Linked DNA regions of Homo sapiens: region 2 is linked to region 1. A link means that fine-mapping ties the variant in region 1 to the expression of a gene that starts in the linked region. Tissue or cell type: whole blood. Region 1 holds a variant in brackets; the other region holds the start of a gene. All regions are shown on one strand. Distances are from middle to middle.

The links. PIP is the estimated chance that this variant, and not a neighbour inherited with it, causes the effect.
Region 2: HOXA4 starts here. The variant in region 1 is fine-mapped to the expression of HOXA4 in whole blood (TOPMed, PIP above 0.99).

Annotation. Positions count from the first base shown.
Region 1 is chr7:27,206,932-27,215,031 of GRCh38, forward strand. HOTTIP (HOXA distal transcript antisense RNA) reads left to right here. Exons shown (of 3, transcript NR_037843.3): 3 at 1-328. Among named protein-coding and RNA genes, the nearest start is that of HOTTIP, 11 kb to the left of the region's middle. RefSeq lists enhancers at 3,416-3,916, 3,917-4,417, 5,973-6,722, 6,723-7,471. The variant C/G (reference allele first, on the strand shown) is at 3,299.
Region 2 is chr7:27,126,994-27,135,091 of GRCh38, forward strand. It overlaps HOXA4 (homeobox A4), which reads right to left and starts at 3,764. Exons shown (of 2, transcript NM_002141.5): 1 at 3,125-3,764; 2 at 1,532-2,578. The coding sequence starts at 3,740. The coding sequence ends at 2,232. It overlaps HOXA3 (homeobox A3), which reads right to left. Exons shown (of 6, transcript NM_153631.3): 3 at 1-77. HOXA-AS2 (HOXA cluster antisense RNA 2) reads left to right here. Exons shown (of 4, transcript NR_122069.1): 4 at 1,207-1,767. RefSeq lists a silencer at 3,922-3,991.

The DNA of each region.
Region 1 (8,100 bases):
TAATAGAAAATTTCTATTGCTGCATCAGAATTATGGAGGAACACAAAAAACATACCTCAGTCCTTAGTGTGTCCTAAATTAACACATATTCACTTATTAGTGGGTAAATGACTATATTTCATTTCAGCACAACTTCTCCCCTGGTAGAAACACAAAAGAAATTTCTAATGATTAAACTAGGAAAGTTTGCACTGAATTGATGGCTTATCAGAGCAACCGCAGTTTTCAGGAAGAAATTCAATGCCATGCGTTGAAAATATCCCCCTAGCAATAAGGGATTATTTTTAAAAAAGAATGAATAAAGATGTTCTGGTTTCTTTTGTTTTAATCTGGTAGTCTCATTTACAACGAGCATGATTCTCCCTGTCGAACTCTGAAAGTGACTTAACTGAAAGGCTTGGCAACTTCAGAAAGCAAAAAGGTAAAAACAGAAAATAGCACACGGTTGAATTTGACAACTTTTACACTACCCGGCTGCTTAATAAATTCTAACCCCACTTGTCTGAGTGGATACTGATCATCTTTTCTATGGCAGTATTTTGTATTTGGGTTGTTTATGGTTTCTTAATTAATTTTTTTGAGTAGTGATTAAATATCTGGGATGCTTTTACACTAAGCATATAAATTCTCATGGTATTAGAAAAGAGCTATTTGATGAAACTCATAAGGGGTATGTAAATTAAAAAAGAGAAGAAAGTGTGTGTACATATTTTACAATAATCTCGAACGACTCCAACTATATGTTGCAGAAGCCATGAGCTCTCTGCCCACTGTCTGTGGGGTATCAGCAAGATTGACTCCTACCAAGCCTTGGGCACAGTGGTGGGTTTAAGGGTCCCATGTCTCCAGATCCTAAGATGGAGTTCACCGCAGGGGTGAGGGCTCGGGTCAGGGTAAGGGTGGGGACTGCAGAAGTCAAACAATTCGGAGGAAGAGGGAGAGGGGAAGAGAGAAGCCACAGACAAGCCAGGAGACAAAGAGGAAGGGAGAGATGGGAGGGAGAAGAATAAGAAGCAATGAAACTGTAATTCTCCACAAAAATTTAAGCTACAGCAGCTCAAAGAAGGCCTGTTTTTAAAGCTTAGCAGAAGCCCATTCTCCGCTGAAGCCTGTTCTTTGTGGAAGCCTGGCTGGGGGGCAGTGGGGGCGGTGCCACTGTCGAGTGTTCCTTGCCATTTAGGTCCAAAGCCTCCCTGTGATTTCTGTAACTGCACAAAAACAATCTGGGCTTTAAGAACCTGATTATTGTCCAGAGTTAAATGCAGGCTCGACCTTCTGCCCATAGAGAGTCCAAACGCATGAATTCCTGCTGGTATCAGCTTCGGAGGCAGAGGTCGCGAGCTGAGCTTGGGACAACCCTTCAAGCCTGCTAGCAATTACCTGCTCTCAGCCACTTTTAAAAGGCCATATTTCTTTACATTTCTAGGATCTAATGTGAGGTTATGTCAGGTCATGGGACCCTAGGCTGGTGCAAAGTAATTTGATGTCACCAAGAGCAAGCAGACTCGTTTGTCACCCTGAGGAATAGAAGTCCCTGTGATTTCTGCTGGGAGCAGAGCAGGGTTGCTTGGCTGGGGGTGTGGAATCCAGACAGGGGTCCAGTGTGGGCCTAACCAGGTGAGCTGGGAGGGGACTTTCTGGATCGTGTGTGTGTGTGTGTGTGTGTGTGTGTGTGTGTGTGTGTGTGTATGTTTGTCTGTCTCAGGTTGAGAGGATTAAGGGATCAGCTCTGCTCCAAGCTCACACAGCAGCCCATTGGAACTCAGCATGTGACCTGGACTGATCCAGGCCCTTGGATCCCAGGTTCACTTGTGACATGATCTGGGTCTCAGTTTTTCTGAAGCTAAATCTGGTTAGCCCACCTGCAGTCCTTTCTTCCCCTAGCCCTTACCCACTGCTACTTTAATAGTCTGTAGCTGATTAAATAAAACAACGGAGTCTTCCTACCTGAGGTTTATCCAGCCATTAGGTGATTGGTGGGAGCACAGAAGGAGTCATAGCCCTTGTACCCCTTTGGGGAAACACTTCTGTGAGTGATAAGAGACGGCTAATGTCTCAGTGAAGGGCTTCAAGGCATTTGCTAGAATGGCCTCTTCCACTATTTCCAGTTCTTCCATTTTTTCAAGGGGGGTGGGGGTTGTAGGGGGTTGTGTAACAAAGCCAAAGAACAGGGTCCCTTAAGCCTTCATTTGAGAATCAGGGAGAGTGCGAACCCTGGAGGAGTATGGGTAGGCAACTTGATGGGTAAAATGGAAAAGGAAGAGGCCGCTTCCCAGAGGCCTGGCCGATGCTAGGTCCCAGAGACTTGAGCATGACAGGGTGGGGGGCCTCCTACAGAAGCCCTGGAAACTCTATCGGTAGAGCTGCCTGTGGGGGCTCCACAATGTCCTGGGATTCATACATTGAAATGTGGAGCATGGTTCCTTGGCCTTCTATATCATTCCCAAAAGGAGTATACTGGTGCCACTCTTCCTGACAATTCTAGGATGATCTAATGCCACAACTAATAGACTGAGAGAGCCTGGGCAACATGGAGAAACCCAGTCTCTTTAAAAAACACAAAAATTAGCCAGGTGTGGTAGCATGTGCCTGTGGTCCCAGCTACTGGGGAGGCTGAGGTGGGAGGATTGCTTGATCCCCAGCAAGTTGAGGCTGCAGTGAGCCATGATAGTACCACTATGTTCCAGCCTGGGCGAAAGAGTGAGACCCTGTCTCAAAAAAAAAAAAAAAAAAAAAAAAGACTGAAGGAGAGAACTCAGACTCAGACTCAGCCAAAGTGGTCAGCAAGGAGGCACACCCCTACAAGGCGGACCCCATTTGAAGCAGGCGAAGGCACCCAATAGAGAACCTGCAGTGAGCATCTCAGAGGCACATGGAGAGGCCTGCACAGAATTCTCTATCTTTTGGCCATAAGGTTAGGAGGTGCTGGTGGGGCCAGAGGAGCTCAGATAAGAGCCAGCTCTCTATATGTGGGGCTCATTTCCATGGGGTTGTGAGAGAGGCCAATCCTTCACAGAAATTAGAATCTGGATGCAAGAAGGCAGCCAGGATCAGATCTGGCCAGATGGCCCCACGGCAGAGATGGGGAAAATGTCACCTTCGAATCCTAAGAAGCTAGGCTCCTGTGCTTTGCCAAAGGCCTCGTGGGCAGCAGTCTGTAGCTCCAGCGGTTTTGCATGCCAGCCTCTGGACTCACTTAACTTCTGCAGCAATCTGTTGGTCCCCAGAGCCACTCTGCACCCTCCAGGAGAACCTACATATGGGCGCTCCAGGGATTTGCCCGCATTAGGATCAGGAG[C/G]CCCAGGAAGAGTTAGATGGGAATCCAGGCATCCTGGGCCCTGTGCTTTCGGTGGACAGCTAGATCTTTCTTGTCAAGGTGGAAATAGCGTCTCTGCCCTGGGTGGGAACCCAGACCCAGCCCTGCAATCACGCAGGCAATAAAGTAAGCACTCCACTGTCGACGGGGAGGCCAGGGAGAGAGAGGCTTCTCTTTGAGGCCTCCCACCCCCATCCAATCCAGGAGGTTGCAGTCGCTGTGGGCGGCGGCGGAGGATGCTCGCAGGACACCGCTGCAGTTGCGACCTCTTCCCACTAGATGTCTTCCCAGTTAATCGGAACTCAAGGGCGCTGTCTCTGCTCCTCGGGCCGAGACTCGGTTTCCCCTGCCGCTTTTTGAAGTCTAGCATTCCTCTGTGAAAGCTGGCTTTTCCCTTTTTTTCCTATACTCCCCTTCCCGCCCTGCGCTCTAAATCCTGGCTCTGGAAATCCACCAGAATCAAATGCTGGCTCCCTGCGGGCCCGCGTCGGAGCGGCTCACGCCATTGGAATCTTTTTATGACCTTTGATGTGTTTAAATAACATGGCAAGTCTGAGCACACACCTCGGATTAAACTTTAATCGGCTGCAGTCAAGGTCGCCCAGGTGGTAAAAGCGTTTCCTCCGACGTCTCCTGGCAGACGCTGCGGGGTCCAAGGTCTGGGGCAAAGCCCTAGGCCCCCGCCATACCCTCCTGCCTCTGTCAGGCCTGGGTGGGGGCCAGGCCCAGGGCCACCCCATCGAGCTCCAAAGAGGACTAAGGAAATGGGATCGGAGGTAGACACTCAGGGTGGGCTAATGACCTGAGCACAGTTTTTATAGCTGCTAGACAGAATAGTTAAAAATTCCAAGAAGCACTTTCAATTTCCCCTGACTCCAGAAACTGGTTGAAGGTCTAGTCATGGTCAGTGCCTTATTGCCTCCTCCCCATGGCTCTGCTCCCCTAGGGAGAAAGGGGGTGCTGGTAATGATGTTGCGGCCAAGTTAGCTGACTGTTTTTAAGGTCACCAAACCCATTAACTGTGGGCCAGGATCTAGAACCCAGGCTAAAGCAGCCCTTCTGTGTGTCAGGCTAGACAAGGTTGGCTTCAATTTTATCTGGGATGAGCATATCTTTCTGAGCCAGTATACCTGTCATGGAGAATTGTCATGGGCAGTATTTAGGAAAAGCTCCAAGAACAGGGCAGCATATGTAGTGAGAGCTTACCACTGTGCTTTTAAAAAAGAAGGAATGTACAAAAGGGCTAGAAGGACAGACAAGTCATCAGTAACAGTGCTTCCCCTGGGAAGAACTGGTGTTCAGAGGATCTGAGTAGAGAATTTTTTTTCTATAAAATCTTTTTGTAGTGTTTGTGAAGTGCACCAATTGTATGTATTAGCTATTGAGGTTATACTTTTCAGAAAACTGGTTACCCTATGTATCTCATGGCCACATATTCCTTTGGGGAATTTCCTCCACACATCATACCAGCCTTGGATTCAGGGGAGAACACTGAAATAAGTTACCCCAAGGCTTGAATCTTAGTCTTACGGACATCAACTCAGATTTCCATCCCCTGGGAGAGGTTCTCAGGCCTCTCTCTCTGGGCTTACCCCTAACTTGTAAATGAACATGCCAGCCCCAGCCATTCACAAAAGAGAATGCGTTGTCTCAAAACGAATTAAAGCCTGATCTTCAATTTTCCCCCAATCCCTGAGTGCCTAGGGGTTTGCAGAAAAGGCCCACAAATGCTCCTCCAGACCAGAGATTCCCACAGCCCCTTGACATGTATATTTGGTTTGTCAATTCTTGTCTTGAAGACACTATCAAGTGTCTTCAAGGGCCACATACTAGACTGACCTGTTGATCTCTTGACTTAGAGATAACACTATCACTGTCTAAAATTAGTTCTCATAGTGCTTCTTCATGGCCTTCTGGGGGCTGCTAATACTCTTTATCTTGATCTTTGTAGTAGTTACACAAATGTATACATATATAAAAATTCAGTGAACTGGGGGCTTAAGATTTGTATGCTTTGCTATACGTAAGTTATATGGCAATAAAAAAATTTTTAAGTGCTTCCTCCTAACAACCTGTGAGGTTGGTCCCAAGGTTATTACAATCATCTCCATTTTACAGACAAAGCAACTAAGACTCAAGGGAAGCTAGGGTCCCAGGCATCTGTGGAAGAAAATAACCAGCCAGAGACTAACCAGCAGCTTCTTCCTCTGGGTCTTGCTGCTTCAATATCCAGCTTTCTTTTCCAGCAGATTTCTCAGGTGACAGGAGCCGGTTCAGTATAGAGAGGCTCTTTTTAGAGAGATTGTGAGGTAGGAACATGTGGTCTGAGTCTTCAAATTTTTTAGTCTTGGCGTAGGGAGTCAGGGAGGGCACGCGCCCAGAGGGTGTGGGGCCTAGAGGGCCCCACTTGTGTGCCTCTAATGAGGAAGAGGGCCCTCAGGGCTTGGAACATATTTTCTTCTTATTCCAGTCCTCCAAGCCCACACGCACCCGAGGCTCAGGAGACCTCTTCAGGCGACCGCACCCTTCCGCTGAAGTCCCCCACTTCTGCCCCTCCGAGGTGGGGTGGGGGTGTTCTGAAATAACGGTGGCTGCAGTTAGATGGCTGAGGACATAGAAAGCGGTTGTTATTTATTCCAGGCACCATCACAAAAGGCTTCCAAAAATATCGAGCCGAGATATTTTATTGTCCAGCCTGTCTGCAGCCTGTAATTATGCGTTCAAGATGTTTAATGTGTGCAAATGCATTAGCCGCTTTCGCTGGTGAAAACCCTAGCTGGGGGCGGGGTAGAGGCAAGTCTGGAGATAATTATGTCGTACAGTCGCAAACATTATTCCGTTCTTACTGTAAACGGCCCCGGCCACCTTTACGAGAAACCAGGAAACTTCTGAGAGTTACTAGCAGCGTTTACGCGGGCAAACTGAGTTCTTTTTCTTTCTCTCCCGGATTGTTCGAAGTATCTATCGGGCGGCTTCGATGCCAGGTTCAGAGGCGCGCCAGGGAGAGGGCGCCCCGCAGAGGAGCGCAGCGGAGAGGCCTACGCAGGTCCCCGGTGCCCGCGGCCCTCGGAGGCCGGGCCCTGCGTCTTGGCCAGGCACTGGGTGGCAGCTGAGGCTGGTGGCCCGGAGCCCTCGCGGCCGCGGGCAGGCCCCTTCTTGGGCAGGGTCGGGCACTCCCGCTGTCCAGGGCTCTTCGGCACCCTCCTTCCAATCAGGTCGCTCTCCCCTGCTCCCCAGACTCAACTCCTCCGAAGCTGCTCCAGGTTGAAATGTGACCGCTAGGCCGACTCCCTGGGCCCGCGAGCAGTTCTCGAAAGGTGCGGACTGAGCCCTTTCTGGGGTGGGGTGCGGGTTGGTTCTCGCAAGTGTGACCCAGGGTGAACTTGCTATTTCGGGTCCCGGGTGCTGCAGGGCCAGGAGAACAGCTGGGATGGGGGACCCCCGCCTCCACCCTCGGGCCGGCACGTCCGCGCCCTGTCAGGTCCCCCTCCCTCCTCTATGATGGCCAAGGCGTGCGCCAGGGCTATCCGGGAACCTTGTAAGGCCTCGTGCTGGCACCTAACCCCACTCGCGGCACACTTCCTCTATGTAGTCTGCGGCCCCGCCTGCCAAATGAGAGTGACCAGTGCAGGGACAGAATGCCAGGCTGGTGGCCGACCGCCTGAGGGACAAAGGCGAGCATTCACAAGCCAACAGCAGACCCCTGCCCCCCATATTTCCATTTCGCTCAGGCTTTTAGGACAAAATCAACAAGGCCGCAGAGTGGTGCAGGCGCTCACCCCGGGTGACAGCCTGGGGAGCCACTGGTTCCGCGACCCTGGGCATGAAACTCCTCAAGGGCGGCCCTCGAGACGCAGGGGAGAGGATGCTGCCGGCGCCTGCCCGAGGGCTTCTCTGCGGGAAGCGGGCAGGCACCCCACCGGAGTCATTGCCGGGACCCTCAGCGCAACGCGGGCCTGTGTCCTCTCGTTTCTCTTTAGAAAAAGACTGGATTTTAAGACTCGTTTTAGGCCAATGATTTAAAACAAAACCAAACCAAACTACTGGGCGCTCGAGGAGTAGTGTGGGACACATTTAAAAAAAAACTTGTGTGGGATCCAGGGTGCATTTTCTGGGGCCTGGCAGCGCTGCTGCAGCCCCAGGGCATGGAGAACAGGGGGACATGGAAAGATCTGGGAGGATGATGAAACCCCAGGGAGGGAAACGCTCACACAGAGAGGAAAAACAAAACCCACTAGACGTGATTTGTTCCTGCTCCAAATGAATCATCTAAAGAGAATCCCTCTGGGCTACATTTACTGGGGCTTAGGGTCTGGGGCCCTCAGATCCACCAGTGGTGGGGGTAGTTCCCTGAAATTTGCACTCCCAATCTCCCCCGTGAAGGTGCAAGCTGTAGCTACAAAGGGAAAAGGAGAGGAAGAGGCTAGTAGGATTCCTGGGTGGCTGCAGCCCCAAAGTAAACCCCATGCTTTGAGTGCCTCTGCATAACAAAGTTTCCCAGGCCCCCCAGACTTGGAGGGGGGTGGTTAGTTATGCAGCAACTAGACGTTTGGGAACAGCAAGACCCTGGCAGGAGGTGCAGACTAAAGCTTTCAGGTTCCTACCTCTTGTTCTTTCCTACCCCCTGTGTCTGCCTTTCTCTCTGCCACCTTTCCAGAGACTCAGGCCTCCAGGAGCAAGTGGCTTTGCTCTGAGGCCCTACCTGGATGGGCCAGAGAGACTGGGAAGTTTAAGGACAGGTCTCACACTTGGTTCAGATTTCAGACACCTCAGAGGTGGCTATA
Region 2 (8,098 bases), 80 kb before region 1:
TGCCTGAGACCACATTATTTGCAAGAAGATCCCTCTCTCCTCCACAGACTTTTCCCAGAGAATGCCTTTCAGAATTGCTGTTGAATTACAAAGAAGTATTTATTGTTTGAGGTGATTAATGATTCCTGGGAAAATTGCTATTTTCAGCGTGATTTAATTTTGTTTTACAAGTGTGTGTAGTAGGGGGAGGGTTAATAAGTTTCAGCAGCAGTTGCATTGCCTCCAGAAATCCCTGGCACCCGTTCACACCTTATAAAATGCACTTTATGCCAGGTTTATCCTGATTTGGGAAGGTAAGTGTGTATTTGATTGCTCCCGAATTTTCTTGGCTCTTCAGAGACTGGTATCTATCACTTTCCTCTCAAATCTGATTTGTAGGTATAGAACGGATCACCCTTGTTTGTATCACACACAGGGCAGCAGGGGTGAAAGGGGTACCAGCTCTGACACTGGCTAAAGGGTTTTGCCACTAATGAGAGAAATGTGTTTAAAAATTCTCTGATATTGCAGAGGCAGGTGAGCACTTACTCCCATCTATGCTAAAATTACTACATTACTTAAAAGTTGCACTTTTTCAAGGCCAGGTGACAGTTCTAATATTCTGGGGCTAGTGTGCACAGGTTTTTGTGGTCTTATTGTAGGGAACTCCCTGCAGTAAGCATCAAATCTAAATCAGTAAACAAATACTAGGGTTATAGAGATCGAGAAGTGGGTTTTGATTTTCAGCCTTTTGGATCTAGATCTCTGGAATCGAGCAGAAAATTCACAAAGCATTTGAGGAAAGTGACCCAGTTTGGCTATTTTCCAGCAGTAAACTCTCCCAGGTCTACTTTGCATGGGGTGAACTTTAGGGGTATATTATGCTTTTTCCTCAGAAGAGACATTGGAGAGTGTACTTGTAAAATTCAGTTTATTTGAAAGCTCTTTCTTCAAAAAAGAGAAACAAACAAGCAAACAAACAAAAATTCCCAGTCTGTAGTTAGTGAAGAGGACCTTAAGAACAGCCAGGAAACAAAAACTAATCTCAACCCTTTGCACAAACTATTTTTTATCTCCTGGGAAACAGGCAGATTAAGTGTGAAGGTGCAACAAATACCAAATACCAAAGAGACCACTTCTTTCCAAGTGTGCTCAGAGTTCAGTGTGTAGAACAGCTGCAGAAACTCCTGGGCCCACAGCACTGCATGGTTTCAACTTTCATTGCAGGGAAGGACACGTTTCTATGCCTTACAGAGACTTGAAGCCTGAAAGCCTGGCCAAGTTTGGGAAGAAGAGGAGCCCTCTCAGAGCTCAAGAGCCTTCCTACTCTTTGGAACTTTTCCACAGTAGGCCAAGCTTGACAAGAGTTCAGCTCAAGTTGAACATACATACACACACTCTCACACACAAATTATGTGAGCCGTCAGAATCCAAGTGAATCCAGCTCAAGCTATCTACAAGGTTTTTACATGCAAGGTCAAGTATCTCAATCCAGAGGACTTTTGTTTTCTTAATGAAAAGCTTAGAAAACACATGAATCTTAGATTTTTAATGTTTTTTAAATGGAGTTTATTCTTAGCACATGGCTTTCTATGTAGCCACATCACAATTTGTACAGTTCCACATAAGTCTAAATGCACTCCCCTCTCCCCAAAGACCGTGCCCCAGAAGGGGACAACAGTATCTCTGTAACAGTGTCTTAAATAAATGCAAGTAAGAAAAACTAACATGTCACACCTACCATCAAGGTCTACACATCTTAAGAATTAAATAATCTTGTGAGGTCCACAATGTCTACTCATTTATTCAGTTAAATACAAGCTTGGATGAGCTGCCTTAATGGGGGAAGAGGAGGTAAGGAAGGTGGGGAAAGGGTCTGTCTTCTTCTGCTTTCAACAAAGATGCAAGTGTATGTCCCCACTCAGCATGGGCTGTCCAGCTAGCTGACTGTAGCCATCTCAAAAGTATTTGATACCAAGTAGTCCTTCTCAGGTATCCACACCTGGCAGCCTTGTTTCGGGCCAGCAGGTTGTTCCACCAGCCAGCATCCTGGACAACTGTTCTCTCTTGGGTGGCAACCAGCACAGACTCTTAACCGGATAATGTCTTCTTTTTGATTATTCTTTTCACCAATTTGGGTTTGTTTTGGTGTCTATTATGGTCCAGATGGGGAGGGGTGGATGAGGAACGGAGCAGGAGAAGAGAAGAGAAAAGCAGGTAAGGGATAGAAACTGGTTAAGATCTCTAGAAGATTATATGGAGGAGGGAACGGGTGTGGAGGTGCTCGGGTGGGGGTGGGGATGGAGGTGTGGGCTCTGAGTTTGTGCTTTCCCTGGTGGGCCGGCAGAGGCCGAGGCCGAATTGGAGGATCGCATCTTGGTGTTGGGCAGTTTGTGGTCTTTCTTCCACTTCATCCTCCGGTTCTGAAACCAGATCTTGACCTGGCGCTCAGACAAACAGAGCGTGTGGGCGATCTCGATGCGGCGCCGCCGGGTCAGGTATCGATTGAAGTGGAACTCCTTCTCCAGCTCCAAGACCTGCTGCCGGGTGTAGGCGGTTCGAGAGCGCTTAGGCTCCCCTCCGTTATAACTGGGGTTAACTGAAAACCCAGAACCCCGAAATAGAAGGCCAAGGAGGAGGGAGCGGAAGAGAGGGAAAGGAGGAGGAGAGAGAAGGTGGGGTGGGGAAGAGCAATTGGACATCATCATTATATAATAACCTGACACCAAGTTCACGCAAGATACATAAAACGGCAAAGAAAATGTTTCACAGGCTATTGACAACGGGAAACACCCGAGAGCCATAAAGAATGGTGCTGGGCATTGGGGCTGAAGAAAAGCTTCAAAGACACATGGCCTGAAGCCTCTGCCAGGGCAATTAAATTTATGGGGGCTATAATTACTGCCCTAACAGTTTGGCGTCTCGTAAATCTCCTGATAAAGGGACCCTGGGTACAAAAGGGTTCTCATGTTGGGATCAGGCGGCTGGCTGGCGCGCACATACCCACATCTCACCGCAGCCCGGGTCAGATGGGGGCTCCCCTCCCGAGGCCCCCTTCCCCTGAGCCTCTCCCTCCTGACCCCGACCCTCGAACCCAGGCCCAGCCCCGGCCCACCTCCCGCGCCTCCCAAGCGGCGCCACGTACCGGCGCTGACATGGATCTTCTTCATCCAGGGGTACACCACGGGCTCCTTGCCCTTCAGGCCCAGCGGGCTCTTGTCGGCCAAGAGCAGCGGGCACGCGGGGGCGCTGCCCCCTGCCGGGACGCCTGGGGTGGCGGGGGCCGCCTCGCAGCGCCGCGGGGCCGCTGGGGGCACGGCGCGAGGCTGCAGGGGCGGCGGCAGCTGGGGCTGCAGGACGTGGCTCGCATGCAGGCCGTGCGCTGGGCCCTTGGCTTGCGCCGGGGGCTGCTCGGGCTGGGGCGGCCGCCCGGGGCTGGCGCCGCCGCGGTAGCCATAGGGGTAGGCGGTGTCCGCGGCCCCATGCGCGGGGTACAGCGCGGCAGCAGGGTAGGCGGGCTCGCGGGCGGTCCGCGGCGCGTAGTAGGAGGCAGTGGGCTCTCGGCCGCCGCCCGCGTGAGGGAGCTGGGGCTGCTGCAGCGGCAGGTGCTGGGTCGGGGGCGCTGGGGGCTGCTGGTAGCCGGGGCCCCCGCCCGGGCCGCCGTCTGCGCCGCCCGAGCCGCTGTGCTGCGCGTACTCCTCGAAGGGAGGGAACTTGGGCTCGATGTAGTTGGAGTTTATCAAAAACGAGCTCATGGTCATTAATTTGTGAAGTGCAAAAATACTAATTTTTCTCGCGTTGTCGTTTTTTCTGGGCTTGCCGAGGCCCCTCCCCCTCCTGCCTCGCTTCCCATCCCCCTTTCCTCTGCGCCCTTCCCCTCCCCCCGCTGTCAAGTGCCCACTCCTCCCCCTCCCGCAGACGCCGCCACCAAAGTTCGAGCCGCTCCTCCCCAGCCCAGCGCGCGCCCCGCCCCGTGCCCCACGTGCAGCGCCCCCACCAATGGGCGCACCGCGCGCGCGGACCCGGATCAGGAAACGCGCGGGTGCGTGATGGATGCTGCTGTCCGGCCCCTGGGCTGGGGGAGGGAGCAGGAGCTTTGGACCCCAGCCCCCCAGCTTTGGTTCCCGCTGGGAATTCAGGCCCTGTCAGGCTGTAGGTCCTCTCGGGAGCCCTCTGCCTGCCCTACTGCTGGCCTAGGCCTCGGGCTGTCTGGCGGCCGCGACTCAGCGCTGACCTCGGGCGCAACCCAGTCAGGCTTCGTGTCCTTCAGGGGTTCTAGGCTAACAGGCGAAAGGAAGGGCGTTGGGACCGAGGGGCATCCTGGTTTTTATGTACGCCACTGAGAGGCCACCAGACACATTTTCTCAACCGCAGATCCCCCTTCCCCACACCCTGCTCCTTGCGTGTCAGCCTGAGAGCCCTTGCTTTGAGAAGCTTGGCAGAAGCTGCAAAGGGTGGGCGGGCAGCTAAGAGAAATCGACCCAAGGATGTAAATCGAGGCCATTCCATTATAACTGGATGGACACTTTTCATTTTTTCCTTCTTTCAGAGACAATCTGTTTCGTGTTTTCCTAAGAAAAATTGGAACCTTCGTAATAGCATCTAATTTGACGGGGGTTGTCGATGTGAGAGCTAAATATGCCCGCATTTACTAGGTGCGATTGTGAGAGAGAAGGTGGCCCAAGGATGGGAATGGATAGAAGCAACACCTCCACAGAACCGAGCTTTGAAAACAATAACTTCCTATTTCAGAACTATCCCCAAACAAAAACAAGCTAAGGGTAGAATAAACACCTTGCCGGGTCTGATCGCTGATGGGTCTTTTCCAGCTAAGAATTTCATGTTTTCTCTTTTAGATCCTGCTTTCTCAGGCAGTATCTGAGGCTAGAGTTATATTTGCAGGACAGTCTATAATTTCTGAATTGCTGAAAATTAGCGTATTAACGATATCAGAAGCTCCGGAAAGGAGGGAGAGGAGACTGTTGCCTGCTATTTGGTAATTGAAATTTGATGGGTACACTAATTACGCCATTATTAACAAATAAATTACTTATTAATTCCACCTAATGTTGATCTTTGAAGTAAATACTGATGCCTTATTTGTGCTGTGTGCTTTCTCCCTTTCTTTTCTGAGTAGTAGACATATCTAGATCCTCTACTTTTCAGCCTAAATTAAAGCAGTGTAAACTAGCATAGTCACCATTCTAAAAATATTTTCATATTGGCATGCAAAAGCAAGGATTTTTCAGCTGGTGCACCTTAGTTGATTTTTCAAAGAGCAGTATAAACAGCCTTCTCACAACTGAGTCTGGAACGCAGACAAGGAAAATTATTTCCTAAGCCTGGAGACACTTGAAAAGGAATGTCAATTCTATCTTCATTCATACTGGTTACTCATATGAGTTACTAAATGCTGGAATATATCCATTTGATGGATAGTCACTTAATGCTTAGCCACATAAAGCCTATTATATGGGACTAATCTTTAAACTAATTTAGGAAAAGAGGTTAAAAAGGGGATCATATTAGCTTTCTAACTGGAATCACCCTGAAGAGGTACAAAGAGATTTTCCACGTTAGGTGTATATGAGTGTGAAGAGTGCTGTCCATTCACATGAGGCACCCTGAAAATTTGTTTTTAAAGAAATTTGAGCCACAGACAGAAATCAACACTGAGTGTAATCTTTAGCCATCCTCTCTAGACTGGAGGAAAAATTTAGAATGTGATACATCTACCTGAACCAATATCTCTCCCTAGCAAGAAAAAATAATATACACATAGGTTATATAAAATGTAATATAAATAATATATAGACATACGTATTACAAATCTGAACCCTATAAGTTTCAGGGGGACAAAAAGCATGACAAGGAAATCTTCCCTCCTTCTCATGTCATCAGCCTTGAGTACTAGGGTCTTAACCATATCTGTTTAATATTTACAGACACTAAAACACAAAATTCTGTTGTTTAGCCTCAGAACCTTGTACCAAGTTTCTATTTTTAAGTATTAACGAGACATAAACACTGTTTTGTATACGGTTAACCCAAACGAGTTAGCTGTGCCTGTGTTTTGTGTGATTCTATTACTTTAGGAAGATGGCCTTACACAGAATCCCCCAAGGCCTGTAACTTGTCTTTGTGGTTCGTATCATAAACACAAACGGAGCCAGGACCACCAAGTGTTATCTCAACACCGACATTTTGACATTTTACTGCAAGATTTATGGCTGTAATAAACAATCTCAGTACCTTTTCTGAACCTTCCTCAATCTCCCTTTGCAAACCATAGCATCATTCCATTGAATCAAATAATCTTTTGAAAAACATTTAAAAAAAATACCTCTTGCCTTTACACAATATCCAAGACACCAAAGTAAAGCCAGGAAGAAACTAACTCAATTAATAAACAAACTGAAGTTTACCAGCAGCATCTCGCCTGAGAAAAGATGGGATGCCCTGAAATGTAGCAGAGAGGGAGCATGCTAATCCTCACACACCAACTGGCTCCAGTCCCAAGCGGGGTGAAAGCGTTATCCTTTCCTTAGGAAACTGGTGAGCACGTTTGCTCATTTCCACGTGCAGGGATAACATATATTCCCAACAAAAGCTTTCTTAAAATCCCATTAGGTGAAATAACTTTTCATCATGTCCTCGAATCCCAGATGGAGAAGAGTGAAGGGAGTCGGAGGGAGAGGGAGGGTGCAAGGGAGGCAATGTTTTGCAGCTTGGTTTGAATCTGATTTGAATCATTTTGAATATATTTGTAACAGCATTCCCTCTTGAATGCAACCCTGTCCCAAGTTTCAAAGTGACCGAACAGTGACACCGTGTGCATTTTGTTTCTTATTAATCTTACACATTGACAGTCTTTGTTAAATCACAAGGCGCGCCCTTCACTAGCCGACATTTTCATATTTGTTAGACGCACTGACCTGAAGTTCACCTCGGCCTTGGACTTTGCGCTTCTAAAAGGTCTATACAGTGTCTTTTAGAGAGCAGGGTGCTTTGCCCAGGTCACTCCTTCTCAGGAAAAACCAAGGGGAAAAGCCAAAGGAAATGTAAACGTTATGGAATGTATTGACTGTATTTGTCCTTTGTTCTTTAGAGCGAGAGTCCCCCAGACTGTTCTCTATCTGATGCATGTCTCTAGAGCTGAACAGTGGAATGGCAGAATTTCAAAACGCCTGATGGTGGCATTTGAAGGCTTCCCCACCACCTACACTAGACACAAGATTTGAGAGGAACAACACTTTACCAGCCATTTGACCAATTAATTCTTTGGGGATAATTTTCTTGTAGTAGTTTAAAATAATGCACACAACGCAGGGATGAGGACTGATATTCATATTGGGATTACACATGAATTTTAACTGGGATTGTTTGAGAGGCCTGAGGTTCAAAATCCTCCAGATAAAGCAAGCACACTAAAAGCAATAAATTCTGCAAGTACTCTTTTCTTTTACTTTGAAGACTAGCTAAGAGGTATCTATGGTTTTTGAAGCTGACATGTCTATAAGGTGTGTCACATGTTTTTAACCAAAAAGCACAATAAAAAGGTTTTTCCCAAAGAGACACGTAATTGTCTTGTTGACTCATCGAGGGGTTTCAGTTTTCCTCATTTCACTAGCCCAAATGTGGTGAAATGTTCACTGCTGCAACAGCAATCACCACAGTTGTTTCCTTTCTTCTGTTTCATCTGGCAAACCCCCATTTGGCTTCAAGCTCTTGGCCAGAGTGAAAACTTTACACATTGCACAGAAGCACCCTGATTACTTCCATGAAGGCAGTGTTTGGAAAATATTTACTTTACCACTGAACATACCTGGCACCATTAAATCCAATCAACCAAAATATTGGGATGATCTTAAACATTCCTGCAAGAGTCCACATTCTGAGTAGATGAATTATTTCCAAAGTTAAAAAAGAAAAACCTAGGGAAAATATTTCACTTTTCTCTTCTCTGTTTTCCTATACTGATCCCTTGAAGGTCAATTCATAGAAAAGGGAAATATGTCCTCTGGAAAATAGATTCTTACAGCACCAACACTTAAAGCCATTCTAGATGCATGAAAAATAAAATATTGTTTAGCTCTTCAGTTGCAACTCACACATGAGG